Linked DNA regions of Homo sapiens: region 2 is linked to region 1. Evidence: fine-mapped expression QTL. A gene starts in region 1. The other region holds a variant in brackets. All regions are shown on one strand. Distances are between the middles of the regions. Region 1 holds the start of GUCY2C-AS1 (GUCY2C antisense RNA 1). Region 2 holds the start of PLBD1-AS2 (PLBD1 antisense RNA 2).

What was found. PIP is the estimated chance that this variant, and not a neighbour inherited with it, causes the effect.
Region 2: its variant is the best candidate, but not a certain one, in a credible set for the expression of GUCY2C-AS1 in whole blood (INTERVAL, PIP 0.80).

Annotation. Positions count from the first base shown.
Region 1 is chr12:14,657,394-14,673,783 of GRCh38, forward strand. It overlaps GUCY2C-AS1 (GUCY2C antisense RNA 1), which reads left to right and starts at 8,243. Exons shown (of 6, transcript NR_186173.1): 1 at 8,243-8,304; 2 at 8,466-8,620; 3 at 10,636-10,753; 4 at 14,873-14,921. It overlaps GUCY2C (guanylate cyclase 2C), which reads right to left. Exons shown (of 27, transcript NM_004963.4): 9 at 15,480-15,565; 10 at 12,329-12,440; 11 at 3,588-3,669.
Region 2 is chr12:14,522,594-14,538,983 of GRCh38, forward strand. It overlaps PLBD1 (phospholipase B domain containing 1), which reads right to left. Exons shown (of 11, transcript NM_024829.6): 5 at 13,977-14,117; 6 at 13,066-13,210. PLBD1-AS2 (PLBD1 antisense RNA 2) reads left to right here and starts at 7,546. Exons shown (of 5, transcript NR_187784.1): 1 at 7,546-7,648; 2 at 8,449-8,617; 3 at 12,992-13,307. The variant T/C (reference allele first, on the strand shown) is at 8,727.

The DNA of each region.
Region 1 (16,390 bases):
TACAGAGAAAATGTAACAACACCTATCTCAACTACAAAATGTTAAAAATGTATAGTTTCCTTCAGATAGTATCGGTCCCCAGATAGTGTAGGTTGGGGATTAGGCCCCCAACCCCTGGGCCATGGACTGGTACTGGTCCGTAGCCTGTTAGGAACCAAGCTGCACAGCAGGAGGTGAGAGGTCAGTATTACCACCTGAGCTCCACCTCCTGTCACATCAGTGGTGGCGTTAGATTCTCACAGGACCGCGAACCCTATTGAGAACTGCACATGTGAGGGATCCAGGTTGTGCACTCCTTATCCTTATGAGAATCTAACTAATGCCTGATGATCTGAGGTGGAACAGTTTCATCTCAAAACTCTCCCCACCCCCAAAAATTGTTTTCCATGAAACCAGTCCCTGGTGTCAAAAGGTCGGGGACTGCTGGTATAGATGAAGCAGAATTCTTGGGCTATAGACGATGTACACTTTCGACTTTGCAGATATCACCAAATTGCTTCCCAAAGCAGTAGTTATCAATTAATTTACCTTCTTATCTTGAGAATTCCCATTTTCTATATTCTTGTCAACATTTGGTATTGATAAACTTTTTTTTAACCTTTATGATGAAGGTGAAACAGTGTTTCATTATTGCATTACTTTGCATTTTCTTGATTACAAGTGATATTATCCTTTCAAATATTTTCTAGCTATTTAATAGAGTATATAGACTCAGAATTATATAGAATTATGTATTTATAATTTTGCTCATTTTTTCCTAGTGTGTATATTTTTCTTATCCTTGTTAACTTACATAAGTTCTTAATATATTTTGAGAAATAAATCCTTTGTCCCTTTAGTTTTCAAATACCTTTTCCTAGTTTATGACTTCCTTTAACTTTGTTTTACAGAAAGTTTTGATTTTATTATCGTCATATTTATGTATTTTTTCTTTGACTTTTCCTTTTTTATCTTGACTGAGAACTACTTTCCTAAACTGAGATCATAAAGTCATTTTTATTGGACAGGCACAGTGGCTCACACCTATAATCCCAGTACATTGGGAGGCCAAGGTGGGTGGATCACTAGAGGTCAGGAGTTGAGACCAGGCTGGCCAACGTGGCGAAACCCTATCTCTACTAAAAATACAAAAGTTAGCCAGGTGTGGTGGTACACGCCTGTAATTGTACCTACTAGTGAGGCCAAGGCACGAGAATTGCTTGAACCCAGGAGGTGGAGGTTGCAGTGAGCCAAGATGGCGCCACTGCACTCCAGCCTGAGTGACAGAGTGAGACTCGGTCTCAAAAAAATAAAAATAATTTTAAAAAGTCATTTTTATTAATTTATTCTAAGTTTTGAAGCTTGATTTTCACATAATCAAACATTTAAAACATTTAAAACTCCACATAAACTATGCATTAACATTTAAAACTCCACAGAGTAAACTATGTCTTTGTGTATTATTTTAGATATATAATAATAATAAAATACAACATAATACAATATAATAATAAAAATAACTATTTTCATTTATATAATGCTTAGTATATGGTAGTTTGTGTGCATGTTCCATTTCTAATCCCTACAACAGCTCAGATGAAGAAATTGAAGCTAAGTTACCTGTTTTAATTTTGTTTTTTACATGTGGAAAGCCTACCTTACCAACATCATTTCTTTCTTTTTTTTTTTTTGAGACGGAGTCTTGCTCTGTTGCCCAGGCTGGAGTGCAGTGGTGCGATCTCTGCTCACTGCAACCTCCGCCTCCCGGGTTCAAGATCTTCCTGCCTCAGCCTCCTGAGTAGCTGGGATTACAGGCACCTGCCACCATGCCCAGCTAATTTTTTGTATTTTTAGTAGAGATGGAGTTTCACCATGTTGGCCAGGCTGGTCTTGAACTCCTGACCTCATGATTCAGCCACCTCGGCCTTCCAAAGTGCTGGGATTACAGGTGTGAGCCACTGTGTTCGGCCACCAACATTATTTCTTAGCTGTCACATACTGTCATCTTTGTCATATTATAAGTTCTTGCTTGTATCTGATTCTGGAACTGATATTCTTTTCTATTGACCTGTTTTGTCCCTGTTTGCCTTTGCTTTTTGGTTATTTGACAAACTCATTCTCACCTTCTCAAGGCCATGCCTTCCTTAATGTCCCCTAAGCAGAAATGATTATTCTCTTTGTATGCTTCCATCTAAGTCTGAGTATTCTTCAAGTAAATGCATGTAAAATAGCATATTACTGACCCTAAGACCTGGAGGCAAGTAGGATGAATATCAAGACCTTAAAGGCTCTTGGGTTCTCAGCTCTGTACCCCAGGAGACTCTTGGGACCCAGCAGAGCCAACTGTCATTCATACTGAATTAGGGGATTTCTTAAATGGTTTGCTAGTTTTCTTGCATAGGCTGTTGTAATGGCAAACTGCATGTGTACCACCTGTCTGCCAGGCCCCCTCATGGGCATAGCATTGCACTGGTCATTAGGAAGCCCCATCTCTGCCTGCCATGTTTAGAGACAATGAGAAACACCTGTTATTATCTTTGATCTTGTGATTTACCCTATCTTAAAGTGATTCCCATTTAGATTTGCTTTTGGGGGAAAATTTTGGTTTCTTCTCACTCTTCACTAAATGGTCACCACACATTGTAGACCATCACCTGTATTTCTGAGCAACACAGTTACAGGAGCCAAGCGGTGTTGTCAGATTGAAGAAAATAGTCTACTTCCTTTTCTGGAGAAAACATCAACCAGTATATGGCAGGCTGGACATTCACATGAGAAAGTATAATGACACACAGACCAAAGTGTGTAATACACAGATAAAACTGTTGTCTTGTTTAGCTAGGAAGTGCAAGTGAACCTGGTAATATAATACAGTATTATAAGTTTGGCATTTAACATATGCAGATTAGGATGTAGTGTGGTATTTACTCACTCATTTATGTATTCAATAAATATTTCTTAGTACACACAATGTCTCTGGCTAGGCATTTGGCAGACCCAAGTTGAGCAGAAAAATCATGGAACTGATGGTGAGAAGGCTTGAGTTCTAGTTCTGGCCCCACCCACTACCTGGTGATAAGACTCTAGAGAAGCCATTTGACTTTCTGGGTTCTCTTTCCTCAGGCTAAAATAGGAGATTTGGAATAAATTGTTTCTAAAACCTCTCCCAGTCTAAATATGTAATTTAATGAGTTTGATGTCTCCCACAATATAACAGCATAATAAAAATAACTATTTTATCTATATATGCTTATTATATGGTAGTTTGTATACATGTTCCATTTCTAATCCTTACAACAGCTCAGATGAAGAAACTGAAGCTAAGTTACCTGTTTAAGTTGCTAAGTAACACGCTTAAGACCACAGAACTAGTAACTCAAAGAACTGGGATTTGAGTTCAGGCATCTTTGGCTTCAAAGCCCTAATCTATTCACTCAATAATATTCTGCCCTTCAGTTAGTCTTTGATGCAGAATGTCTTCATTATCTTAGGTCAGTCTGCAGGCTTCTTTGTGAATATTCATCATCATCAACAGACAACAGACCTCTCCCACTTTCCCTTCCTGCCTCTCTGGATACCGAACACAGGCATGATAGAGGCGGCTGTACCTGAGCATCAGGAGAGCGACGAGCAGGAGCAGCACCACAGCTCCAGTGAGGGTGAAGACTGCAATCATCAGGATCTGAGGGCCTGTGGCGGAAAATGCGTTAGGAAGGACCTTAGACAAGAGAGCAAAAGCATTTCCAAGATTCTAGCTGTACAATGTAATTTGGGGAAGGGAAAAGAGAACCCTTTAAAAAAATTTATTTTTTATTAATTTCTCTCTGGTAATATAAGTCCTGTGTCCCTACTCTCTGACAGCCTTGTCTGGCATTGTACCCAGGGAAAGTGGCTTAATTTTGGCTATTCTGACAGCATATACATCTCTATTCTTTCTAATAAGAATCACCAAATGTTACACAAACATAAAATAGTTTAGAGCACGTACAAAAAAGTTGGTGGTAGAAGTCTACCTGGTGTCCTTGAAACCAATATACCTAAGAAGGGTTCATAGAGGATGAGACATGTATTTTTTTTTCTTTTTGAGACAGAGTTTCACTCTGTCATCCAGGCTGGAGTGCAGTGGCGCAGTCTTGGCTCACTGCAACCTCTGCCTCCCTGGTTCAAGTGATTCTCCTGCTTTAGCCTCCCGAGAAGCTGGGATTACAGGTGTGCGCCACCATGCCCGGATAATTTTTGTATTTTTTGTAGAAATGGGGTTTCGCCATGTTGCTGGCCATGAACTCCCGGCCTCAAGCGATCCGCCAACCTCAGTCTCCCAAAGTGCTGGGATTACAGGCATGAGCCACCATACCCAACTAAGACAACTTGTTTTTAAATACAGAGCACATGCCGGAAGAAAAGTAAGTCAGTATAGAATATTAAGTGACAGTGTTGCATGCTGGTTCTTTCCAAGCTCTCCTGGGTTAGTGAGGGAAGTCAATGAAGAATGGGATTTTATTTACTAGAACACTAGTGGGTGGGTGGAGTTGTATAGATGGAGTAAGTGGAAAGACTCTCAGAAGAGTAAGTGGAATCCAGGAAAATGTGGATCCAACCCAAGGAAGCACTGAAGCAGTGTCTGAGTATACAAAGGAATACTCCTACACAGAGAAGGACAGCAACAAGAAGACTGCACGGGAAAGTCGTGGTTCATATATGCCGCAATGAATTCCCTATTAGGAAGTCAGTAGGTTCAAGAAGAAAAAATGGAATAGATTCCAAGCAATAGACAGAATGTGTAAGAAGCTGGGAAGTGATAGGAGTATGGTGAAGAAGACATGTTTCTTTATACAGCAAGGAAAGAAAAGAGAAATCCAATCAGGAATTCTAAGGAAAAAATGTTCAAGGAAGGCATAATCCAAAAATGAAACAAAGTAAAATGTGCCCTGACTTTGAGAATTAGGTATTAAAAAAGGAGAGAAAATCAATTTTCCTTTGTGGTACAAAAGGGAGACATTGGGGCTATATAGAAAGATGTTGGCCGGGTGCGGTGGCTCATACCTGTAATCCCAGCACTTTGGGGGGGCTGAGGGGCCGATCACCTGAGGTCAGGAGATCAAGACCAGCCTAGCCAACATGGCAAAACCCCATCTCTACTAAAAATACAAAAAATTATCTGGCCGTGGTGGTGGGTGCCTGTAATCCCAGCTATTCGGGAGGCTGAAGCAGGAGAATCGCTTGAACCCGGGAGGTGGAGGTTGTAGTGAGCCAAGATTGCACCACTGCTCTCCAGCCTGGGCGACACAATGAGACTCCGTCTCAAAAAAAAAAAAAAAAAAAGAAAGATGTTATCACGGTATACAATTTAGCTTTATATAAATAATATTCACATAATGAAAATGTTTCCTTGTTTTCAACTTATAGAATCAAGTTATAGGTAAAGAACAGAGGTCTTTATTTTGGTTACCAAATAAATATTATCAACCCTGGCAAAGAAAAATATAGGAGAATTTTGGAGATGGGAAGGAGGTAGAAGAAAGAATTGTGGCACTAACATCTTCATCTTACAAAGTGGGAGGCAAGATATTTTATATACAATTGATAGGACAACACTAGAAGCTCATGCATATTAATTAAAATGAAAAAGGTGTTCAATAATTGTACCGACAAAAAAGATATAACTATATGGGAAGAAGTGAGAAAGAGGGCTAGCGAAGATGAGCTAAATCTTCATGTATCAATACAAAAAATTAATAGATAACTGCTAAAGCTTATAAATCAAGAAATAGAAGCATATTATTTAGATATGCAAAACAGTAAAAGCAGAAGTGACTGAGAGAGCAGAGATGCACAGAGGTGGGATCAGGTGCATTCACTTTCCATTATGAACACATCTGCTACTGGATTTTAAAATCATGTGTGTGAATTTTTCTTTTTATTTTTCTGAGACAGAGTTTTGCTCTTTTTGCCCAGGCTGGCATGCAATGGCACGATCTCGGCTCACCGCAACCTCCACCCTCCAGGTTCAAAGATTCTCCTGCCTCAGCCTCCCAAGTATCTGGGATTACAGGCGCACGCCACCATGTCCAGCTAATTTTTTGTATTTTTAGTAGAGGTGGGGTTTCATCACGTTGGCCAGGCTGGTCTCGAACTCCTGACCTCAGGTGATCAGCCCACCTTGGTCTCCCAAAGTGCTGGGATTACAGGCGTGAGCCACTGTGCCCAGCCATGTGTGAATTTTTCTGTGCTAAAATATAATTGATGTAGGTGCCCCGAAAATGAGGTTTTAGGACTTCTTTATGAAAGCAGAATCCTAAACCTTCACACTGTATTCTCTATCATGACACCATAATCTAAACTCCTGGGGGCACAGTCCATGTCCTACTTATTCATTCCTGTTCATCCTTACACCTTTGGCACCCAGCACAAGACCTGGTAAAGTATCAATAAAAATGGCTAATAAAAAATAATAGAAGAAAAACCTGGCCCTGGTCATCTTATTGCCTGAGAAGAGGCAAGGAGAAGGTGCTTGGACATTAAAATACATAAATAAATTCATATAGAAAGACTCCTGTGCCATTAGGGGTCTCATGTCATATGTATTTTAAAACTGTTTTTGTTTAATCATATTATGTCCTTCTGAAGTAGATGGTTTAGCTTGGGGTAAACACTACAGCTCCTTTGTATAAGGGCTGAATTTGAAGGGTTTATGCTTTGCAGACATGTGACTTTGCCTCTATTACCTTGTTTTGTGTTCATGGGAAATTTTCAATGGTGAAAATGTGAACTTTGGATTTCTACTCTCATCGGGGCAGAAATAAATTCATACTTTGGAGTTGAACTTGCATTATGGGCACATTTAACTGGTGAATTCTGTTTGTTACTACAATCACCACTTCCATCACTATCACCACTATTGCCACTCCCACCATTCTCACGCCCTAAACCCCAGAAAACGAAAGTGAGTACAAGAAATACATTTTCAACAGTGTAGATAATCCCACTCACTGGTCTATCAAAATTGCACATCCCCTAGACTAGAGTATAAACTGGAGGGAATATGGGGACTCCTCAGCCCACCTCAATTCTCTGCCTCCTACAGTATGAACATCTCACTGTATTAGATATAATTATAATATTTATATATAGTATTTAAATATACTATTTAAATGTAGTCATTTTTAATTAAACATGCTTTTCAGTTTTGCCTTTTAGATAAACGCAGTATCAAGTTCTAAATTCCAAGGTTAAGCTTCTGCTGCCTTCTGGTGGCTGCTGTAGTTATCACATTCTATTTAACTCATCTCACAATGAATGAGAGTTTATAACCTCAAGGTCATATGATATTACGGTTGGAAGGAACCTGATAAACTTCTTGATTTAACAGGGGAAGAAACTCACACTTAGAAAAGAGAAATAAATTGACTGAAATTAACAGAGTATAGATGAGTGCTGGAGTCCAGAGTAGAAATATATTCAGTTATCTCATGTTGTCATTCATTCATTCATTCATTCATTCATTTATTCATTCCAAGGCACTGTGTTGGGGCAAGGAAATATGAATAAGAATAAGCCCTGAGGGGGCGCGGTGTCTCACACCTGTAATCCCAGCACTTTGGGAAGCCAAGGCGGGTGGATCACGAGGTCAGGAGTTCGAGACCAGCCTGGCCAACATGGTGAAACCCCGTCTCCACTAAAAACATAAAAATTAGCCGGCCGCGGTGGCAGGTGCCTGTAATCAGTTCCAGCTACTTGGAAGGCTGAGGCAGGAGAATCTCTTGAACCTGGGAGGCGGAAGTTGCAGTGAGCCGAGATTGGGCCACTGCACTCCAGGCCGGGCAACACTGCGAGGCTCCGTCTCAGGAAAAAAAAAAAAAAAAAAAGCTAAGGAAAGTTGAGATTCCGGTTAAATCTTGAGGATGAGTAGATGTTTCCCACCTCTATGGAGAAGTGATAAATTCTATTCCGAGGGAGTAGCATAAATAAGGACACAGCGGCATAAATTTGCATGACGCTTTAAGGAAGTAGGGAGGAAGCTGAGAGCATGGGGAAGGGATAGGTGAGTAAAAGATAAGTAGGGAGATTACGGGCACTTTGTGCTGTATTAAGTAACTTGGACTGTATTCTGTAGGTAAAGCAGAGTTGCCAATTGACATGTTAGCAACAGTGCAGTGACATGATTGGACTTGTGCTTTCTTTCTGATAGCAGGATGGGTTGGATGGAAGTGGGCAGGACTAATGCAGGAAGTCAGTTTGACGTCATTTTTGTGATACAGGAAGCAGATGCTGAGGACTTGGATGAGGACGGGCACCAAATCTGCATTGTCCATTGCTATTTCCCAGGTGCTCAGAACATTGTCTGGCATTAAATAAATATCTTTGTTAAATAAATGAAAGAACAGGGATGGTGTAATCTCTTGGTGAAATGTTTTGTTACTTAGTAGCTGTGTACACACAGATGCAAGTTCCAGTCATGCATATCGTATTTCTATACTATTTCAAAGGTTGAGTTGCTGAAGCGGCTTCATTGTCTGGGGACATACCCAAGGTTCGTCATCGCGTGACGAGAAGATTAAGGACACAGACGCAAACACGGAGCGGGTCAAGTAGCGGAAAGTTTAATAGGCAGGAAAGAAGAGAACAGCTCACCGGTAGAGAGGTAGGAGGGCTCTGAAGGGAAAAAACCATGCTTGTGGTGGGAAGCAGTAGGTTATATAGGGAGGCTTCAGGAGGCGGTGTCTGATTTATATAGGGCCCAGGGGATTGGTTTGACCAGTGTGCCATTTACATAGCCCTGAAGAAACTGGCCCTCTCACCCTAATCTTTTATTATGCAAATGCGGCCTCTACCTGGCTGGCGCCATGACACCCACACATGTGGCTTTACCCGGCCGGCACAATGACACCCCCACACATGGCTACAAAGAAAAGGGAGGGGAAATCGCTATATTGGGTGGACCTGGCTTTTAGTACAGCTGCGGGCATTCATCTACGCAAGCTTCCAGCTTGCTTATTTATGCTTGCAGTTCAGCTTTTCAGGCTGCTTTTTGCTAGAAAAGAAATGGTTTGGAGACTGTTTTCAATTAAAAGAAAATGCCTGGCTGGGCGCCGTGGCTCATGCCTGTAATCTCAGAACTTTGGGAGGCCGAGGCAGGCGGATCACGTGAGGTCAGGAGTTCCAGACCAGCCAGCCCAACATGGCGAAACCCCGTCTCTACTAAAAATACAAAAATTAGCCGGGCGTGGCGGCAAACACCTGTAATTCCAGCTACTCGGGAGGCTGAGGCAGGAGAATCGCTTGAATCCGGGAGGCAGAGGTTGCAGTGAGCCAAGATTGCACCACTGTACTCCAGCCTGGGTGATACAGCCAGACAATGTCTCCAAAAAAAAAAAAAAAGAGTAAGAAAAGAAAAGAAAAAGCCTTACTGAGGACTCCTGTACCCTCGCTACCTGCCTAAATAATTTCTTTTTAACTCCTATATTATTGCTTCATTGGTAAAGTTTAGAGCTAAATGTAGTAAGTAACAGTTAAGTATTGAAAAGCTCTGGCTAACTGAGGTTGTTAGTTAACTGAGGCTGAAGTAAAGTTGCTCAGGATAATATAACGTCCCTGTAGGATATAGTATGAATATTTAATGTTCACTTTAGGAACACTTTTACACTGTTGGTGGGACTGTAAACTAGTTCAACCATTGAGGAAGTCAGTTCTCTTTAAGTAAAGAGAACTCTCTCAAAAAGTACTTTTTGAGAAGTTCAGCACTTTAGAAATCACAGACCTATTGAATAACCAAAATACCAAAAAACTTGAAGGAAATACATTAAAAACACAAACCTAACTTTGTCACTGACAGTTATAATTAAGAAGAAAGAAAAAATAATTTGAACTCAAAAAGTTACAAAAGAAGTTGAGAGTTGCAGAAGCCCATGAGAAAAGAGATATATTTCAGAAGTCAAGTTTGGTTTAAAACTAGAAAGCTTGAAGATGGTTCCAGAAAGTTTTAAAAGCTTATTAAATAAAACTCGACTTTAAAAAGCAATCATAGCAATAAATCTGAAGTCAGCTCAGGATTGCTTATTGTCTAGAAGAATGCCATCTTCATTCCCCCCTCCCTCATTTCGTTAATCAGCTGCTAATACCTGTTGGATAAAAGTACAGGAATCATTTTGGACTTAATTTGACTCATGGAGTGAAAGAAAACTAGAAACGCAGGTATAGCTCTGACACAAGCAAGCCCTTCAAACCAGAAATGTTCCCTTTATATCAGATCAAATTTTCAGAGTTTCTGGCTGTAGAGCGGGGCTGGTATAAAAATATTTGTAGCTTATAATTTTTAATACTTTTTGAAAATAAGAAACTAATACAGAGTCATTGTGGAAATTTTGGAAAATTCAGAAAAATAGAATAAAGCAAAAAAAATCTTGCAGGATCCCATCAGTCAGAGGACACCACTCTTAACAGTTTAACATATTTCTTTCCAGTCTTATTTCTATGCATTGTTTTACAAAGTTAGAATCTCATTAAATAAGAAGCTGTACTTTTCTATTACTTTACATCATAAGTTTTCCCATGTCATTTAACATTCTTCATAAATAATTATTTTTAATTGGTTGCCTGATGCTCCATTTGTGAATATATAATAATTTTCTTTTTTTTTTTTTTTTTTTTTTGAGGCAGGGTCTTGCTCTGTCATCCAGGCTGGAGTGCAGTGGCACAATCATGGCTCACTGCAGCCCCAACTTACTGGGCTCAAGTGATCCTCCCACCTCAGCCTCCTGAGTAGCTGGGACCACAGGTATGCACCTCTATGTCCACTAATTTATATATATATATTTTTGAGACGGAGTCTTGCTCTGTTCCCCAGGCTGGAGTGCAGTGGCGTGATCTTGGCTTACAACAACCTCTGCCTCCTGGGTTCAAGCGATTCTCCTGCCTCAGCCTCCTGAGTAGCTAGGATTATAGGCACGCACCATCATGCCCAGCTAATTTTTGTATTTTTAGTAGAAACGGAGTTTCACCATGTTGGTCAGGCTGGTCTCGAACTGCTGACCTCGTTATCCACCCACTTCAGCCTCCCAAAGTGCTGGGATTACAGGCGTGAGCCACCACTCCCAGCCTTAATTTATAAATGTTTGTAGAGATGGGATCTCACTGTGTTGCCCAGGCTATCTTGAACTTCTGGCCTCAAGCAATCCTCCCACCTCAGTCTCCCAAAGTGCTGGGATTACAGGCATGAGCCACCACGCTTGGCTCTAAATAATTTTATTGATGGTATTTCTACTTTTTTTTTTTTTTTTAAATCTTTGGGCTAAATATCTGTCCAGATTTAAGACTTTTTCTTAAAGATTTTTCCTAGTCACATGGAATTACCACTCATTATGGCAAGCCCTGGCCAAGCCAGTCATGGACAGATTGTCCTGAGGCCTCGTTGCCCAGGAGATCCTGAGTGGCCCTGCCTGCTGCTGATGGTGAGTGTGCAGCTTGCACGGGTGAAAGCTGGCCAAGTCATGTTAGGGCTATTCATGACATGATAGGACCTAATCTTAAGTAGGTGGGTAACTATCATTGCAACCCAAATATGTGTCCAGTATGGGAACAGGGGAGACTGTAAAGGCCAGGATCACTGGTCACCCCTCAGCCTGATATGTCAAGTATTTCTTGCTGAAATACACAACCTTTTAGCTTATTGCAGTAAAATGTAAATGGAGTAAGAATATATGTCTCTGTGCTCATTTTTGCCAGTTGTCAAACCCGGTTTTCTGTGGAATAATTTATGTCAAATGGTAGGACATATTTTAAAGATAGGTATAGCTAAATTAGAATAAGAATGTTTTCTTTCTTTCCTTTTTTTTCTTTTTCTTTTTTTTTTTTTGAGACAGGATCTCACTCTGTTGCCCAGCTGGAGTGCAGTAGAACAAAGATAGCTCATTGCAGCCTCAACTTCCTGGGCTCAACTGGTCCTCCTACCTCAGCCTCCCAAGTAGCTGGGAACACGGCTGTGTGCCACTATGCCTGGGTAATTTTTTTTTTTTTTTAGTATTTTTGGTAGAGACAGAGTTTCACCATGTTGCCCAGGCTGGTCTGAAACTTTTAGGCTTAAGCAGTCTTCCTGCCTTGGCCTCCCAAAGTGCTGGGATTACAGGCATAAGCCACCATGCCTGGCCAGAAATCACTGTTGAATCAGAACTATAATATCATTCATTGTGCAGGGAAGTAAGGACCACATTTACAAACTGGACAGCAGGAAATCAAACTGGGACAGCAGACAAAACACAGCAAAAAGCACAGGCTAATTACATAAACAATAGACTTTACTTTTCTTACCAGGAAAACAGTGTCAGGGAGAGAAAATTCATTAGGGATATCTTACCCCGGCCTGTAATATCATTAGGAAGTTTAGAGTTCTTCCAAGTGAATGTGGGGCTCATATCCACAGGATAGGTCTTATTTACGTGGGTATCATAGGTCAAAAGAACCTTGTACTGTGTCAGGGCACAAAAAAGAAAAAGGATGAACAGTAAAACATTATAGAACAAATTATGGTGAGATTAATGATTCTACACAATGACGCTTGATTTCCATAACAATTCTCAGTGAAAAAAGGCAACTGTTAACCAGCTAGTTAGGATCATTTATTGATTCCCAGCATGAACACAGATATAACTTCAGATGGACCGATTAGTTTCCTATTTCTTTATGCTCATACACTACACCATTAACTCCTGTCTGTCCAGCACAGATTCTGTGGGCCTTTAGTGAATCAGTTCAAGTATTTCATTTTTCAAATGTTAAACTAGAGGCTAAGAAATATTAAATGGCTAGCTCCAAGTCACATGATAAATGAAAGACTAGTGTTTTCCACAATATTAAGTTGCTTTTGAAAAAAGCTCTCAAGAAAATGCAGCAGAGCTAAAATCCATTATGTCATTTTGATACATATCAAGGGGCCCTGAAATAACTACATTTCTTAACTTCTATCCATTACTTAATTTTCTAATCTCTTCTATTCCTTGGCTCTAATATGCTTTTCTTGTACATGACATTAATTAGTTTCTAAAATAAAAGATTTCATTTTCAAGTCATTTGCCAATGGAAATATTAATATATCCTTAAATTACTGCTGCATATATTGAGTCAATTTTGTAAGGGAGATCTGAAAGATGACTGATATGGTTTGGCTGTGTCCCCACCAAAATCTCAACTTGAATTGTATCTCCCAGACTTCCCACGTGTTGTAGGAGGGACCCAGGAGAGGTAATTGAATCATGGGACCGGTCTTTCCCCTGCTATTCTCGTGGTAGTGAATAAGTCTCACGAGATCTGATGGTTTTATAAGAGGTTTCCCCTTTCACTTGGCTCTCATTCTCTCTTGCCTGCTACCATGTAAGATGTGCCTTTCACCTTCCACCATGATTGCGAGGCCTCCCCAGCCTCGCTGGGGAGTCCATGAAACCTCTGAAAAAAATTTTTTTTTTCTCTTTTTTTTGGGGAAGAAAAGGAGGTTTAATTTGACTTACAGTTCCACATGACTGGGGAGGTCTCATAATCATGGTGGAGGGTGAAAGGCACTTCTTACATGGTGGCAGCAAGAGAGAATGAGAAAGAAGCAAAAGTGGAAACCCCTGATAAACCCGTAAGATCTCGTGATACTTATTCACTATCACGAGACTAGCATGGGAAAGACCAGCCCCCGTGATTCAATTACCTCCCCTGGTCCCTCCCACAACACGTGGGAATTCTGGGAGATACAATTCAAGTTGAGATTTCGGTGGGGACACAGCCAAACTATATCAGTGACCATCCTTTTAAATTTACCAGTGTACCCTCAAAATGTTCTGGACAGCAAAGTTATATTTTCTTTCTGCAACCTCTGCCTCCCAGGTTCAAATGACTCTCCTGTCTCAGCCTCCCAAGTAGCTGGAATTACAGGCATGCACCACCATGCCCGGCTAATTTTTGTATTTTTAGTAGAGACAGGGTTTTACCGCGTTGGCCAGGCTGGTCTCAAACTCTTGACCTCAAGTGATCCGCCTGCCTCGGCCTCCAAAAGTGCTGGGAATACAGGGGTGAGCCACTGCACCCTGCCCAATGTTACATTTTCATAACTTTACTCTTTCTTTCTTTTTCCTTTATGTTAGGATGTGGCATATTGAATCTCTGTTGAGACCTATCCTGGATATAGATTATCATCCCTTTAACCTTACATTTTGAGAAGATCTCTGATTTTCCCAAATATACATGTTATATAGCACAACCGATGGTACTACATTATTGAAAAATTCACCCGAATTTGCTTATAGAGAGAATAAATGCACAGAGCAACATTTTCCATTTTGAAGTATAGTTATGAGACTGACATTAGATCTCACACGTTTCTGCCTCTCTCTGTGAAGATCATGGGCATCATCCCAGATGCAAATAACTCAGAGAGGAATGCATGTACCTTTGTAATCGCTATTAGTAACTGAAGTATTGATGGGATCTTATGTTAAGGTATTCTTACGGAATGTATGCGAAACATAACATTATATTGAAGGTTCAATATAGTATCTAGAAACTACGAATTACATTTATGGAATGCTGCTAGCAAATTTCTGGTTTAGCTTTCTCAACGTGGACATCTTTTCTCTAGCTTTTCACATTTTCCATTGCAGATATCTTTTACAAAGCTGGGTTGATGTACACATTTAGTATATGACTTAGACTGTCATAACACTCACATTGGAAAATGAAAAAAAAATGAATAAATTTTATGTTATGTCAGGACCTGACCTCCTATATAAACCTTTTTACTGACCACTTGGTTGGCTGGAACAGTGGCTTTTATAGTTTGGATGGATACAACATTGGATGACATGAAGACAGGTGTTTTTTTTGTTTTGTTTTTGTTTGTTTGTGATTAAATGCTGACCAGCCGTCAATGGTGTGCCAGATAAGAAGCTATGCACTGAAAAGATGGAGAGGTGAGTAGACCACTTATTTTCTTTAAAGAACCTACTATTGGGTGAGGAAAAAAAAGTGAATATAATATGAATAAAAGCATAGCATTACAGGGCTGTTTATGTGGGGCTCAGGTTTACACATTTAATGATTTTCCTGAGAGTTCAAATGGAGATAACAGGGAATATTTCATTGAAATCTTTAGTTGTGAAAATGAGTAAACAATTCTTAGGAAAGACTTGTGATCCTCTCATTGGTATCCCATCAATAGTCTTTTTGTTATATTATGTAATTTATTCTGGGTGGATATTTAAAATATCTATACCTATCTATATGGATATTGATATAGAGGTATAGATATATTAATAGTAAATACAGTGGATATTCTGAGTAAGAAGTTTTATGGGTCAAAATGCTTAAGGAATACTACCCTAAGTGGGGCGTAATTGTGAAGTTGAAATGAACTGTCTTCAGATCCTAAACATAATTTCTCTAATTCTTTTGCTAGTGCTCCTCTTCCAAGTTACCCCTCCTCACCCAGTCACAGCACCCTGAATTTTCTGATAAGCAGTGAGACATACTTTCTTGGTGTCCACAGAGGTATACAGAAGCACCATGGTACTGTCAACATCCCCCCAGTCATCCAAGGTCACTGGACCGTCATACCCTAGGGCAAGATCAGAGTATGTTAGAGGCCATTCTTGATTTTTGCCTGACAGATAAGTTGGATCATGACAGAGAGTGTAAAATGGGTTCAAATAGCTCTGTTTCAAATTTACTGAAAACATTGTTGACATTAATAGTCTAATCAGATGGCACCTGGATTGGCTTCTTAGCCCAGAGATCTCTGGAGGGCATTTTTATGGGAGATGTATTTATTTAGAAAAAGCAAAAAACCTTTTCATTGCATTTAGGGTGGCACTAAATGTAATGAGTCAATAAGTCCCTCGATTATTAGTGACACATTTTTGCTAAGAATATTTCCTGAACTCCTAGCATAGTGTATAGGGTCACTGCACAATCTTAACATAGATTGTAGGAAGATCAAAATTTTTTCACTGTCACTCATTTGCTGAAGACATTGAATAAAATTACTTAAGTTTTCTGAGTTTCAGTTTTGTCATCTATTAAATAGCAATATAAGATAAAACTATTTAGGTAAAAAAAAGTGATCAAATTAGTAACTTCACATGTTTCGACATAACAATGAACATTTATTTCCTGTTTACAATATACCAGGCTCTGTGCTAAGTGATTTATATGCATTATCATATTATTCTTCCTGAAATATCATGATATAGAAACTATTATTATCTCCGTTATATTGGTGAGAAATAATTTATTTAGTCAGAGATATTAAGGGTCGTACGGCTGGTAGGTGGCGGGAACAAACATTTGTTTGTTTCCTAGTTAAATGTTAAGCCAAATGTTAAGCCTGTGCTAATCCATTAAAATGCTCAACCGTGGTCATGGAAGTGAGGAAATTAAGAGT
Region 2 (16,390 bases), 130 kb before region 1:
AGATACAAAACTCCTCAAAAAAATATTTAAAAACTGAATTCAACAGCACATTAAGAAAAATCACTCACCATAATAAATGGGATTCATTCCAGGGATGCAAGGATGGTTCAATATATGCAAATCAATAAACATAATACATCATATTAACAGAATCAAGGACAAACCCATGAAGGGATGTTGAATCTATTGATCTAGAAAAGATATTTAATAAAATTCAACATCCCCTCATGATAAACACTCTCAACAAAACAGATATACAAGAAATGTAACTCAACACAATAAAGCCCATATATGACAAATTCACAGCTAGCATCATACTGAATGGGGAAAAGTTGAAAGCTTTTCCTCTAAGATCTGGAACAAGACACAAATGCACCACTTTTATTTAACATAATACTGGAGGTTCTAGCCAAAGCAATCAGGCAAGAGAAAGACAAAAAGAGCATCCAAATTGAAAAGGCAGAAATCAAACTGTCCCTGCTTCCAAATGACATAATCTTATACAGGGAAAACCCTGAAAACTTCACCAAAATACTGTTAGAACTAATAAGTAAATTGAGTACAGTTGCAGGATATAAAATCAATATACAAAAATCTATAGCATTTCTATATGACAATAGCAGACAATCAGAAAAAAATAAGAAGGCAATTCCATTTACTACAGCTACAAAAACAAACACTTAACTAAGCGGGTGAAAGATCTCTATGATGAAACCTATAAAATATTGACATAAGAAATGAAGAGGATACAAATGGAAAGATATTCCATGTTTACGGATTTGAGGAATTTTTAAAAAAATGTCCATACTAATCAAAGCAATTGACAGATTCAGTGCAATCTCTATCAAAATACCAATGACATTCTTCATAGAAAGAGAAAAAAATCTTTAAATGTGTATGGAACCTCAAAAGACCCCAAATAGTCAAAGCAATCTTGAGCAAAAAGAACAAAGCTGGAAACATCACACTACCTGGCTTCAAAATATACTACAAAGTTATAATAACCAAAACAGCATAGTACTGGCATAAAAATAGACATATATACTAATAAGACAGAATAAAAAATACAGAAATAAATTCACACACTTACAGCTAATTGATTTTTGACAAAGACACTAAGAACACACATTGGAAAAAATTCTCTTTGATAAATGGTGCTTGGAAAACTGGGTATCTACATGGAGAGGAATGAAACTAGACCCCTTGCTGGGTATTTATCCAAAGGAAATGAAATAAGTATGTTAAAGAGATATCCACACTCTCATGCTTATTGCAGCACTATTCACAATAGTCAAGATATGGAATCAACCTAAATGGCTATCAACAGATGAATGGATAAAGAAAATATGATACATATACATATAATGGAATACTATTCAGCCATAAAAAGGATCAAATTATGTCATGTGTAGCAATGTGGATGAGCCCTGAGGGCATTATGTTAAATGAAATAAGCCAGGCACAGAAAGACAAATACTCCACAATCTCACTCAGATGTGGAATCTATAAAAGCCGATCTCATACAAGTATAGAGAAGAACAATGCTTACCAGCAGCTGGGGAGGGTAGGCAAGGTGGAAAGGGCTTAATCAACAGGTACAAAATTACAGTTAGATAGAAGGAGAAAGTTGCGGTATTCTATTGCACAGTAGGCTTACTATAGTTAACAATACTATATTATATATTTTAAATAACTAGAAGAGAGATTTTTGAATGTCCTTACCATTAGAAAGTGATAAATGTTTGAAGTGATGAATATTCTAAATACCATGATTTGTTCACTACACAATGTATACATGCATCAAAACATCACACTGTCCCCTATAAATATGTACAATTATATGTCATTTAAAAATAAAATAAAACATAATTCTCAAAAATACACATTTCAGAGACACTATGGTGTGCTATTTTTCAAGTCCACATTTCAACCAAAAATTACCAGGCACTACAGTTAACAATATTGTGTTACATATTTCAAAATAACTATAAAAGAGGATTTTGAACGTTCTTGCCATAAGGAACTGATAAATGTTTGCGGTGAAGAATATACTAAATATGTATATACATTGTGTAATGATCAAGTCATGGTATTTGCTATATTTGTCACCTCAAAAGAAAAAGGAAGGTACGACCCCACACTTAAGTCACTGGAAACTGTTTCCAAGTAGGTCTTGATATTGGGTTTAGCGGACAAAGACAAAACAGGAAAATATGGTTTTAAGAGTTACCAGAGAGGGAATCTCAACATAAAATTAGAAATTAAAGAAAGAACAAAATTGAAATTCTAGATCTGAAAAGTACAGTAAATGAAATGAAAAACTCACTGTATACTTCAACAGTAAATTTGAGATGGCAGAAGAAGGAATTAGAAAACCTGAAGATTGTGGCTGGGCATGGTGGCTCACGCCTGTAATCCCAGCACTTTGGGAGGCCAAGGCGGGTGGATCACCTGAGGTCAGGAGTTGGAAACCAGCCTGGCCAACATGGTGAAACTTCATCTCTACTAAAAATACAAGATTAGCCCAGTGTAGTGGTGCATGCCTATAATCCCAGCTACTTGGGAGGCTGAGGCAGGAGAATCGCTTGAACCTGGGAGGTGGAGGTTGCAGTGAACTGAGATCGCATCACTGAACTCCATCCTGGGCAACAATAGTGAAACTTCATCTCAAAATAAATAAATAAATAAAATAAAATAAACAAAAAATAAAACAAAGAAAACCTGAAGATAGAAGATTAATGGGAATCATCCAATCTGAAGAACAGAGAGAAAAAGAAAACTAAATAAAATTTACAAAGCCCCAAAGACTTGTGCAAAAATGTTTAGCATCTGATGGATAAATGACTGGAGTCCCAGAGGGAGAAGAGAGAGAAAAGAGGATGGAAAAAATATGTGAAGCTATAACTGGTGAAAAACCCTTACATTTAATGAAAAACATTAATTTGCAGTTCCTACCAGCACAACAAACTTAAAATACAATAATCACAAAGAAGACCAGAGCTAGCCCACGACAAAGCTGAAGTCACCAAAAATCTAAATGCAGAAAAAAATTAGAGAGGAAAATAATATACTTAACAGCTTACTTCTCAACACACACACACACACACACACACACACACACGCACACACACACTTGTTTTAATTTTTTAAAAGACAGTAAGTTTTTAAGTAAAAAATCATAACACCATATTGGTGTATTTATAACATATATAGATGGAGCATATATATGACAACAATAGCACAAAGGATGGAAGGCACTAAATGGGATAATTACCATTTTAAGTTCCTATATATTTTTTAGCAGACATAATTGCTTATTAACTTTATGCAAATTGTGATGAGTTAAAGATGCATATCACAAGCCCCAGGGACAACAATTTTAAAAATGCAAATAAATATAGCTAGAAAGCCAACTTATTAAAATATAGAATATTTTGTTATAAAACCTTTGTTAAAATGTTTAACACAAAAAAAGACAGGAAAGGAGGAACAGAGAAACAAAATAGAGATGAAATGAACTAAATAGTGAAATGGCAGACTTAAATCTAAATATATAAATATTTACAGTAAATGTAAATGACCCAAACACTTCCATCAAAAGTAAGAGACTGTCAAACTTGATTGAAAAGAAAGCAAAATGTACTAATTATCTGTCTACAAAAGACATACAACAAACACAAAACCACAAATAGTTTGAAAGTAAACAGACATTCCGTTTGTGCTAACAAATTAAAATATGCTTTGATTCATACTTAAACCCGAAAGCAGGAATGCCTACATTAATTGCTACATTAAAAACAGCCATCTACCCTTGATTATCTAGAAAGACTTGGTAATGATGGCCAGTTCCTTTTAGGTTTTAGAAAATCAAATGATGACCTAAATTTCCCTTAATTTGCAAATACAGTAGTAATTAAGGTACATCTCTAAAGTGGAGCACTTACACTAGGCTCTAAGATTCACTCTGAGGTGGAACTTAAAACCAGTATACTGTATGTATGCATTGGTAATAGCGACTTTTGCTTCATAGCTTCATACCAACAAAATATATTAGAATAATATGAAAGTACTGGAGGAGCTGAAAGAAAAACATCCAAGGCCGGGCATGGTGGGTCACGTCTGTAATCCCAGCACTTTGGGAGGCCGAGGCAGGCAGATCACCTGAGGTCACGAGTTGGAGACCAGCTTGACCAACATGAAGAAACCCCATCTCTACTAAAAATACAAAATTGGCCGGGCGTGGTGGCGCATGCCTGTAATCCCAGCTACTCGGGAGGATGAGGCAGGAGAATCACTTGAACCCGGGAGGTGGAAGTTGCAGTGAGCTAAGATTGCACCATTGCACTCCAGCCTTGGCAACAAGAGCGAAACTCCATCTCAAAATAAAAGAAAAAAGAAAAACACCCAACATACACATACGCCTTCAGACTTACAGACTTAAGCTGCATTTATGGGGAAGTGATGAGGTTTAGAACATATATATATTTTGTTAAAATTCCCCAGATGATTCTTGGTATGAACTACTACCGTATAAATTTTAAGATATACTTAGAAATCCTTAAGACATCTAGCCCCATCTCTAATAGACAACACATTTATATTGCAGATATTAATTTTTTTTCAGTTTATGACCAGTTATTTGTGAAGGACTTTTGGCAGGGAAAATATGAATATGCTAACTTTAGCTTATGGCACCAATTTACTAAAGAACAACAGGGTCACCAACTGATCTCAAACATAAAAAAACCCACATCAGTCTGATATGATATTGTGCTACTTTGAATCTGTTACTAGTACCATCTTGACAGAGGATACATGCTCCCAAAACGTTTGTTACCACACTTAAAAATCACTGCCATCATTAAGCATCAGCTTCAAAATTATATCTATCCATGATTTACTTTTTCCAGATGACTACCGTTATTCTAGTCTTTTGAATTTGTAAGGTGAAAAAAAACAAAAACAAAAACTTACGATGCACTTTCCTCCAGCACATAAGATTTCAAATTGAAAATTAAAGACATGCTATGGTAATGCAGTTGCTAGTACTACACACTTTGTACAACAAAAAACAAAGGCAAGAAACTTAATGGAAAGAAAAGAACCTTCCTTTATTGGCCCTTAAACTGAATCAAGATCTGAAATGTAGAGATGATCTCTGACATTTATAACAGATACCTGTATGTTATTTCTGTGTAAATAAAATTGCTGGTATGAAATGACAAAAAAAAAAGAAAGTAAACAGACAGGAAAAGTACAAGATGAAAACAGTAAGCATAAGAAAGCTGGAGTGGTTATATTAATATAAGACAATGTAGACATTAAGGCAAGGAGTTGTACTAGAGACAAAAAAAAAAGACGTTTCATAATGATAAAAGGGTCAATATAGTAGGAATATACCATACTTATGAATGTATGTGCTAAATGATAGAGTATCAAAATGCATAAAGCAAAACTACCAGAAATGAAATGAGAAATATAATCTGCCATGGGATTAGAGAAAAAAGATAAGAAAATGAGAAACAGACAAATTAATAATTATAGTGGAGGTATAAATATTTCTTTTGTAGTAAATGATTAACAAATAGAAAATCAGTTAAGAGTATAGATGACTTGAATTACACTATCAATTAACTTGCACTGACTGACATTTACAGAACACTACACTCAGAAGTACTAGAATTTACATTATTTTCTACTGCATATGAAACATTCATTGAGATAGACTCATGCTGAGCCATAACACAGGTCTCAATAAAGTTAAAAAAATTTGAAATCATACAGAATATGCTCTCTGATCTCAGAATAAATTAGAAAATGCAATTAAATTGGAAAACAGTGACAAAGATCTGAAAAATCTGTAAATTTTTGGAAATTAAACAATACACTTCCAAATAAGCTATGGATTAAATAAATCGTGATAAATTAGAAAATATTCTAAATGGAATAAAAATGAACACAAAATATACCAAAATTTGTCAGATGCACCAAAAGTAGTGCTTATTGGAAAATTTATCATTTTATTTGCTTATGATAGAAAGATCAAAATCAGTTATCTAGTCTTCTACATTAAGAAGCTAGAAAAAATTACAAATTAAATGCAAAGTAAGTAGAAGAAAGAAAATAAATATAAAAATGGAAATTTTATCTTAATAAAGAAGAAAAATGGACAATATCATGAATGATAATGGGGACTTTACAGATCCTACAGACATTAAGAGGTTAAGAAAAACATTATAAATAGCTTCATATCAATAAAAACAATAACTTAGAAAGAAGGGATAAATTCCTTGAAAGATACATTTTTAAAACTAACTCAAGAAGAGTTAGAAAACTGAAATAGTTCTGTAGCAGTGAAAGAAATTAAATTTACAATTAATAACTTTTCAACAAATAAAAACCTTCATATCTAGCTTCACGCGTGAATTCTATTAAACACTTAAAGAAGAAAATGGGCTGGGCACAGTGGCTCACACCTGTAATCTCAGCATTTTGGGAAACCAAGGCAGGAGGATCACTTGAGCCTAGGTGTTTGAGGCTGCAGTGAGCTATGTTCACACCACTGTACTCCAGCCTGGGGGACAGAGTGAGACCCTGTCTTTAAAAATAAATAAATAAATAAATAAATAGAATAAAATAACACTAATCATATACATGCTCTTAAAACACTTAGGAGAAAGAAATAATTCCACATTTAGGATATGAGGATAAGCTTATCCTAAAACAAAAACCATCATAAGAAAAGCAGACTACAAACAAATATGTCTCATGAATGTAAATGAAAAAAATCATTAACACGTTAGTAAACTGAACTAAAAATAAATACAGAGAATAACACATCATGACTGAGGATTAACCCAGGAATTTCAAGTGGTTTAACATCTGAAAATCAATCAATGTAACTTATCATATTAATAAAGGAAAAAATTCATATGATCTTTTCAACAATTGCTGAGAAAGAATTCAGAAAAATGCAACACTCATTTATTGATAAAAATATTAAAGAAAGTAGGAAGAGCAGGGACCTTCCTTAACATTATAAAGGGCATCTACAAAAAATCTGCAGTTAACATCATACTTAATGGTGAAAGACAATACTTTTCACCCTAGGTCAGGAATTGGGCAAGGATTTGCATGCTCACCACTTATGGTCTCCATTATTCTGGAGGTCTTCTCCAGCACAATCATACAAAAAAACAATCAAAGACATACAAGGGATGGAAGAAGTCAAACTGTCTTTATTTAGAGATGTCATGATTGTATATATAGAAAATCCCAAGGAATCTACAAAAAAGCTATTAGAAAGATCTCAGGATAATAATGTACAAAAAAATCGTAATACATTGTGGTAGTTTTCAAATTTCCACAAATTCTTTGGCACCCTTCTCTTTAAAAGGTGGATTCTAATCGCCTTTCCTTGAATGTGGGCTGGTCATAACACCTTGCTTCTAATTAATAGAACCTGGTGGAAGTGAGCGTGTGTGACGTCTGAGGTGAGGTCACAATAGGCATTACTATTTCTGCCTTGTTCTTTTGGATGGCTTCGTCTGGAGCCAGGGGTCTTGCCATGAAGGACATTCAAGCAGTTCTGAGGAGAGGCCCAAGTGAAGAGGAACCAGTTGCCAGCACCACCCTGTCAGCTATGTTAGTAAGTCGTTTTGGAAGTGCATGTTCCAGTCTCAGTTAAGCTATCAGAGATTTTAGCCCCTCAGTCATTGAGTCTTCCAGCTGAGGCCCCAGTCACAGTAGAGACAAATTATCCCCACTGTGCCCTATCTAAATTCCTGATCCACAGAAACCATGAGTAACTAAATCATTATTGTTTTTAGCCACTAATGTTTGGAGCAATTTGTTATGTGGCAATGGGTAACCAATAAATACATATGAGCAACAAACAACTGAAAAAAGAATAAAAAACATTTTGATTACAGTAGCATCAAACATTACTTAGGATTTAACTTACTTAAAGGTATGTAAGACCTAAATACTGAAAACTACATGATATGACTCAAATTAAAGACTGAAATAAACAAATAGATTATATTAGTAGATTGGAAGACTCAATGTTGTTGACAAGTAAATTTTCTCTGGATTGGTTAAAACTATCAGATCTTTGTGCTGAGGTCTTCACACAATTGTATTGGCTGCCATTTCAGTGCCGTCATTTTCTAGTGATTTATCTCTTTGTCTTACCTCCTTGATTATTAATTTGCATTGCCAAAATAAGTAAATGTGTGGGGAGGGCTAGTGCAAGGCTTCTCCATTCCTTACTCAGCCTTAGCTGTTACTAGGCAAACAGACCATGTATTCAAAACCCTTCTTGTTAGGGACAGAAACTCCTAGAACAAGGCCATTCAAAGCCACTTTCCTTTGGGTATCCAGTGCCTCAGGCAAGTGTTTTTTGTTGTTGTTGTTGTTTTGTTGTTGTTTGTTTGTCTTTTTTAACAGGGCCCCTGCCTATATAAACAATTTGATTAAAAACATATATTTAAAAATTCATCAGTACATGTGAGATATGATGATTTATCATTGAAGATTTAGGATGATGGGCAGAGAAAGGCAATCTGTTTTGTCTATTGTCCAATCAGTGCACGTGAAGATTTGTTACAGTATCCAGGTACCATCTCTTTGTATTCTTTATTATTAAATGCATTGTTCTTGGCTAATTTCCTATTTTTTGTTATGAGAAAAAGGTAGCAATACTGTTATTACAAAACCATGACTTT[T/C]TGGAACCTGTTTGTTTTGAAACAACACAGATCTCCTTGCCTCTGCAGTTCCCTAACACCATTTTCTTAATGACTTTGCGACATCTACCACTCTACCTGTGAATCCTGGCTTCTAATGACTCAAAAATCCTTATTATGCTTTGTTAATGATGACCACAAATGCAAGCCTTACCCAGAGTGTTAAAAAAATTGTGAATGATAATTTGTTTTATGGTTACTAAAGCTACACTGGGAATTTTACAGTGTAAACATAGATCGACATGTTTTCTGTTGGACTCTTCAGGCTAATTGCTGCCTCCCTAGAATGTAATCTCTTTGTTGTTGTTCTTGAGACGAGGCCTCACTCTGTCCCCCAAGCTGAAGTGCAGTGGTGCTATCTCGGCTCCCTGCAACCTCTGCTTCCAGGGCTCAAGCTGTTCTTCAGCCTCAGCCTCCCAAATAGCTGGGATTACAGGCATGAGCTACCAACACTCGGCTGATTTTTTTGTATTTTTGCAGAGACGGGCTCTTGCCATGTTGCCCAGGTCTCAAACTCCTGAGCTCAAGATAATCCGCCCACCCTGGCCTCCTAAATTGCTGGGATTACAGGCATGAGCCTGCTTAGCCTGTTTAAATGTTAAGTGCATGTATTTGAAAGTAGGTACATAAAAAGATAAAAGAACAGGCTAAAAGCCCCAGGAAAATTTAAGTAAAGTTTTCATAATTTAAGGCTTCACAATTTAAGTCAAGTCTTCATGAGTCAAATCTCTTTTCATGCTGAACCCTCCCCCACCTTCACTCCTCACCCACGGGCACCAGTGGGTAGGATAGGTGAGAAGCCTATAAGTCGAGCTGGAAGAGCTGTCCCAATCACACCAGAAAAATCCATCTGGCTTAAGACTGACCCAAGACAGTAGGAAGTCACATCACCAACTGCAGCAAAAGATTTGCTGCAAAGGCCCGTTTGTGTTGTGGAGCAAGGTTCTCAAAAGGCCTCAGAGGGGCCAGGCCTAGCCCGCCCCAAGGACTGACCGACACATGGTACAGAGCTGCAGGGGTGAGGAGGCCACGACAGGGGCCAGATGTGGAGCTCATAGGTCGAAGTTCGCTTTACCGTCCTCCCCTGCTGCATGCTGAAACCCGAGGGTAAGAGGTGGTTTTCAGTAGCATAGAGCCCTGAACATATGCTCTGACATGAGAGTCACCCCAGGTCATCGTGTGACCACCGTTCTGACAGCTCAGTTATGCACCATCTTGCAAAAAATATATACTGTGAGGGCCAACTAGAGGAATCTGCTTACCAGGACCAGGCCATAGGCTTGAGTCCCAGAGCTCCTTAGGGCATCTTGTTGAACCCATGCGTGGGCAGGAATGGAGGAGAAGAGCCCCCAGATAGGGAGTCCACATGCGTTGCTTTCTGGACTCAGAGAAGCTGACCTGGATGGCTCTGCCACCTTGGTCAGTCTTGGGCACTAGAAGGGGATTTTGAAATTTTCTGGAAAGGAGCTTTCTAAACTAGATGCACAGAGACACAGGTCAAGATACTGCCAGCCTGGCCAGTCTCAGGATGCTGGAGGGGGATTTAGGTAATTTTCATGAAGGTAATTCCAAGCTGGGAGGGTGGGGTTCCTGTGCCCAGACCTAAGGGTGGTACTGAGGTTATCAGCACCTGGTATACTTTGGTATACTTTTGACCTTCCCTGGGTATTGCATGTTAGCCTCTTTAGGTGAAATAATTTCCTCAATCTCCACTTTGTATTTTAGAAAAGACTAAAAAAGACCAAGCCTGTTAAACAACTCCATCAAAGAAAAACAAGGAAGCCATCCAGCTTTGTTCTGGACTCAGCAGCTAAGATGGCATGAGCTTCATCGTAAAGCATAGTTCTATGTCATGTCTACTGGATGAATCCAATGTGGCTGGTCCCTTAATAAAATAAGTTGTAACATAAATGAGACTGCACATGTTTTCCTGTTTGGTGCTGAGAACAAAGCTGCCCAGTTAGAGAAAATATGAATCCCACTGTTCCATTGGCTCCTGTAAAAATGTTTTGGGGTATATATAAAACTGTCTGTTGCTCTCTTGGAGATTCAATTGCTCCAAAAAGCTCTACATATTATCTATGAAATCTACTTGTGTATCTCATCTGGAAGGATACATATGCAAATGTTAACAGGATTATACGTTTCATAAGAAAATCTTCCATGACCTTCTCCATCACTACCTCTGGGATCCAGGACTGTTAACACTACTGGAGAGCATTGTATTCCACAGAGATTTCAAAGCAGTGCACATAACATCTGAATATTGCATTTTATCACAAAGATGAGGAAGAGGAAGAATACTGGACTGCTCTGTCTCTTGCTGTCCTTAAATGTCAGTGTAATAGAATGTGAAAGAATCAAAGCACAGTCTAACTCAGAGAGAGGAGTCCCCAGTCCCCCTCAATGCTAAAACAACTAAGCAAACTAAGACAAAGATGAAATCAAATTGGTTTCAAAGAAAGGATCAGGTCACAAGGACAGAGAAATACTGGGTTATGCCCTTGGTCAGAATTCCTGATAGGGGCCGGACATGATTGCTCACACCTTAATCCCAGCACTTTGGGAGGCTGAGGCTGGAGGACCACTTGAACCCAGGAGCTTAAGACCAGCCTGGGGAATGTAGCAAGATCCCATCTCCATAAAACATTTTTTAAAAAATTAGTCAGGCATGGTGATGTGTGCCTGTAGTGTCAACTACTTGGGAGGCTGAGGCAAGAGGATCATTTGAGCCCTGAAGGTCAAAGCTGCAGTGGGCTAACATTGTACCGCTACACTCCAGCCTGGGGCGATAGGGTGAGACCCTGACTTTAAAAATAAAAAGGAATTTCTGATAGGAAGAGCAAAATACTCCGACAAAGGTAGATAGATATGACAGGTGGTTGGTATAACCACCCCATAAGTTACGGATGCGTAATTAAAGGTCAAACTGGTTACAGTGTATCCAGTTGAACCCTTAGATGTTTGGTGTTTTCCCCTTGACTTTGCTCATAATGTTTCCTGAGGAGGTTGGGGCTAACACATGCTAACACACATGCTTTGTTGGATTCACAGAGTGAGTTTTGTTGTTTTAAATACATAGTTTTATCTTAAGTTGGAGGGTCTGGAAATTCTTGGATGGAGAACAGACAGTGAGAGCTCATCCTTGCCTCCTTTCTGTGGGTCATATGTTTGCTACCATTGTTTCCACTTTCTCTTTTCTTTTCTTTTTTTTTTTTTTTTTTGAGACGGAGTCTCGCTCTGTCGCCCAGGCTGGAGTGCAGTGGAGTGATCTCCGCTCACTGCAAGCTCCGCCTCCCGGGTTCACGCCATTCTCTCGCCTCAGCCTCCAGAGTAGCTGCGACTACAGGCGCCCGCCACCACGCCTGGCTAATTTTTTGTATTTTTAGTAGAGACAGGGTTCACTGTGTTAGCCAGGATGGTCTCAATCTCCTGACCTCGTGATCCGCCCACCTTGGCCTCCCAAAGTGTTGGGATTATAGGCGTGAGCACCTGGCCTCCACTGTTTTCTTAAACCAGTCCTGCTTTATTCATTTACCTCACCTGCCTATTGCATTTAGGCCCAGGAATTTGCAGCCTCTCCTCTACTGGGACTGTCCTCCCGTCCATCTCTACTTTTTCAAATTCTAGCCATCCTTTCAAATTCTAGCCACTTTGAGATAGCCATGTTCATGGTCTATCTCAAAGGTTGTCCTCTCTTTCCCCAACAATCAGATGTGAGTCTCACCTCCTTGGAATGGACAACACTGGTTACACTTCTTTTGTAGCACATACAGTATCCAGTAATATTATTACTCTTATTCATATTACACTTTATATTGTCCTCTTGAGTATAGTGTAAGGTTTATAAACTTACACATTCATTCATCCATTCATTTGGCAATTTATTAAGTACTCAATGCCACACACTGAGGTTAAGTGCTGTGGATAGTGCAGTAAATAAAAGAAACACTACACGCCCTCAAGGTGGTACCTGAGTGCAGGATCAGCCATGTCTTCATTGCTTCTGCCGCAGAGCCTAGCAAAGAGTCTTGTACTTGATACATACTCAGTTGGCATTTGTTGAAATAAATTTAGATGTAGCCATTTACATTTACAAAGTGTCTTCTATTTGGCAATTCTAGTAACCTTGTTTATGTCATTCTATTAAATAAAAGTATTTGAGCTATATTTCTTCAAAAGCCCTCTGAAAATCAGATTGTTTGTTAATATATACTAACCATTAAACATTTCTTCTCCCATTGCAGTTAACACTGAATCACTAAGGTTTTATCCAGGAATAGTACTCAAAGTGCTCAGATGTTCCTTTAAATTCATTTACCTGGGTAACTGCTGAAAGAGAGGCGACTACTGCTGGTATCTTTATCTATGACGTTGAAGTCCCAGTGTTTATATATCCTGAGCATGGCTGCATACGTGTACCAGCTTGAGTGAGCAAAAAGGATGTTCTCAAATCCAGGAAGAACCTACAGCCAGAATCATAGTGGATTACACAGATGTACATAGCTAACTGACTGCAATTGTCTTAAGTGTAAGAGGCATACAGGGATTGTGCCATTTCAGGTAAGTGTTTATTGCTATACTGATTATTGGAAAATATGGCCAAGGAGTCAAGATTAACCTTTAATGTGGCCCCAAACAGACTCTTCCTTCTAACATTCAAAATGGAAGACTCCAGCTGGGCATGGTGGCTTACGCTCGAAATCCTAGCACTTTGGGAGGCCAAGGCAGGCGGATCACTTGAGGTCAGGAGTTTGAGACAAGCCTGGCCAAAATGGTGAAACCCTGTCTAAACCAAAAATACAAGAAAAATTAACCAGGCATGGTGGCACACCCATGTAGTCCCAGCTACTCGGGAAGCTGAGGCAGGAGAATCGCTTGAACCTGGGAGGCAGAGGTTGCAGTGAGGCAAGCTCACACCACTGCACTCCAGCCTGGGCAACAAAGTGAGACTCCGGCTCAAAAACAAAACAAAACAAAATGGAAGATTCTAGAAGGTGGGAGTGGCAGGTGCATACAGCATGGGAGGAATGGTGGAAGAACAGATGTAACATCGTGTACTTACAATTCTCTCCATCAAAGTTACTTCCAGTTCTTAACTTCTACCATTGAAGAACTCATGAGCTGATATACAGTTATAGCCAGGGGTGATGAGATGTTGCTATACTTGGGCGCTATATAGAAAAAGTCTGTATGAACCAGAACAAGGCAAAAGGAGCTGCTATGTCTTACCTTGATAAGAGCGGAGCAATGTCCCATGTCCCATCTCTTAAAAACCTTTAGGCTGCCGTTTTTTGTGGGAGAGAGTGAGGGAATCAGATCCAATAGATCTCCAACACTATTCAGGAACTGAATCTGGAACAGGGTCATTGGCTAGGAAAGGACAAAGACTGCACTTAACATCGTTTTGTGACAGACATCATTTCCTGTTTTCCTCTTGTTAGGGACCCATTAAATTATTCCCTTGCAGGCTGTGCATGGTGGCTCACGCCTGTAATCCCAGCACTTTGGGAGGCCAACGCGGGTGGATCTCCCGAGGTGAGGGGTTTGAGACCAGCCTGGCCAACACAGCAAAACCCTGTCTCTACTGAAAATACAAAAATTAGTTGGGCGTGGTGGCGGGCGCCTGTAGTCCCAGCTACTCAGGAGGCTGAGGCAGGAGAATCGCTTGAACCCAGGAGGCGGAGGTTGCAGTGAGCCAAGATCGCACCACAGCACTCCAGCCTGGGCAACAGAGCGAGACCGCATCTCAAAAAAAAAAAAAAAAAAAAAGTTATTTATTTTCGAAGAGTCTCTAATTTAACAGGTACGCTAGATTTTTATTGTAGCTTATAAAATAATTGTTATGGCTTTATAGTTTAAAAGAGCTGTTTTGGCATGTTTTGATAGCCCCAGAATTTGGGAGTGGCTCCTTGGAGAGTAAAACAGAGCTTTCTGTTTGCACTCTACAGCAGTGCTTCTCAACCTTGGCACTATTGACATTTTGAGCTGGCCGATACTTTCTTTTCAGTTGTTGTGCGTTGTGAGATGTTTAGCGTCATCCCTGGCCTCTACCCACTAGGTACCAGCAGCAACTTCACAGTTGTGGCAACCAAAAATATCTCCAAGACTTTGCCAAGTGTCCTCTGGAGAGAAAACCACTCTTAGACAAGAACCACTGCTATACAGCAAAAACATTCAACTAAGATGCTTTTGGTTTTGATTGTGTGTTTACTATAAGACTAACTGACCAGCCAGCATTGACTTTGAAGCAATTATCAGATTGTACTTGAACATGAACTTTGTGCAAACTGGAGAGCACGGCTCCAGGAAGATTCAATCTGCTGGAGCAGGTCCGGGTTAGGCATCAGCAAATTGGTTTTGGGGTAGAGGTGGTGGGAAGACAAACACAAATGACATTTTAACCAAAAAACTAAAACCAAAGCAAAAATTCAATCCAATTTTTATTTATATAAATATCATCTCTGTTTTGTTTGTTTGAATAAATTATTCATTTATTAGTCAAGATTTAAAAAAAATTATAACAAAGTTTATATCAGAAAGTCTCCTCCTTTACCTGTTCTCCATTTTCTCAGGTACTACCATTTCTAGTTAATCATTTTTACTAGTTTTTTTGCATATACTGCCAGAGTTTTTTGATTTTTTTATTTTTCCCTACTGGCACTGTGATCTTGGATCCAGAGTTTTAAAAATGTCTTGTAAATAAAATTTTTAAAAACATACATGGTAGTGTGTCATATGTGCTGTTGTTCACCTTGATTTTTTTTGTCTTAGTATCTTTCATTTAATGTTTTGGGGATATTTTTATATTGGATGTAAAAATTGTCCTCACTCTTCTTTTTTTAATTATTATTTATTTATTTATTTATTTTTGAGACAGAGTTTCACTCTAGTTGCCCAGGCTGGAGTGCAATGGCGCGATCTCAGCTCACTGCAACCTCCGCATCCTGAGTTCAAGCAAATCTCCTGCCTTGGCTTCCCAAATAGCTGGGATTACAGGTGCCCGCCCCATGTCCAGCTAATTTTTGTAGTTTTTTGTAGAGATGGGGTTTCACCATGTTGGCTAGGCTGGTCTAGAACTCCTGACCTCAGGTGATCCACCCACCTTGGCCTCCCAAAGTGCTGGGATTGCAGGTGTCAGCCACTGCACCCAGCCTGTCTTCACTCTCCTAAGCAGCATTCCAACGTACGGATGTATTATAATATTTTTAACTACTCTTTTTTGATGAATTTTCAAGTGGTTTCTAGTCTTTTGATATTGTAAACAATGCCACAATAATTAATCTTGGACGCTTCATTTTGCTTGTGTTTGAGTCTATGTGTAGGATAAATTCCTAGAAGTGATTTAGATTTTAATAGATATTGCCAAATTGTCCTCATACGAATTGTTTAAATTATACTCTTCTGGCCGGGCACAGTGGCTTATGCCTGTAATCCCGGCATTTTGGGAGGCCGAGTCCAGTGAATCACCTGAGGTCAGGAGTTCGAGACCAGCCTGGCTAACACGGTGAAACCCCATCTCTATTAAAAATACAAAAATTAGCCGGGCATGGTGGCGCATGCTTGTAATCCCAGCTACTCAAGAGGCTGAGGCACGAGAATTGCTTGAGTCCAGGAGGCGGAGGTTGCAGCTGAGATCAACCACT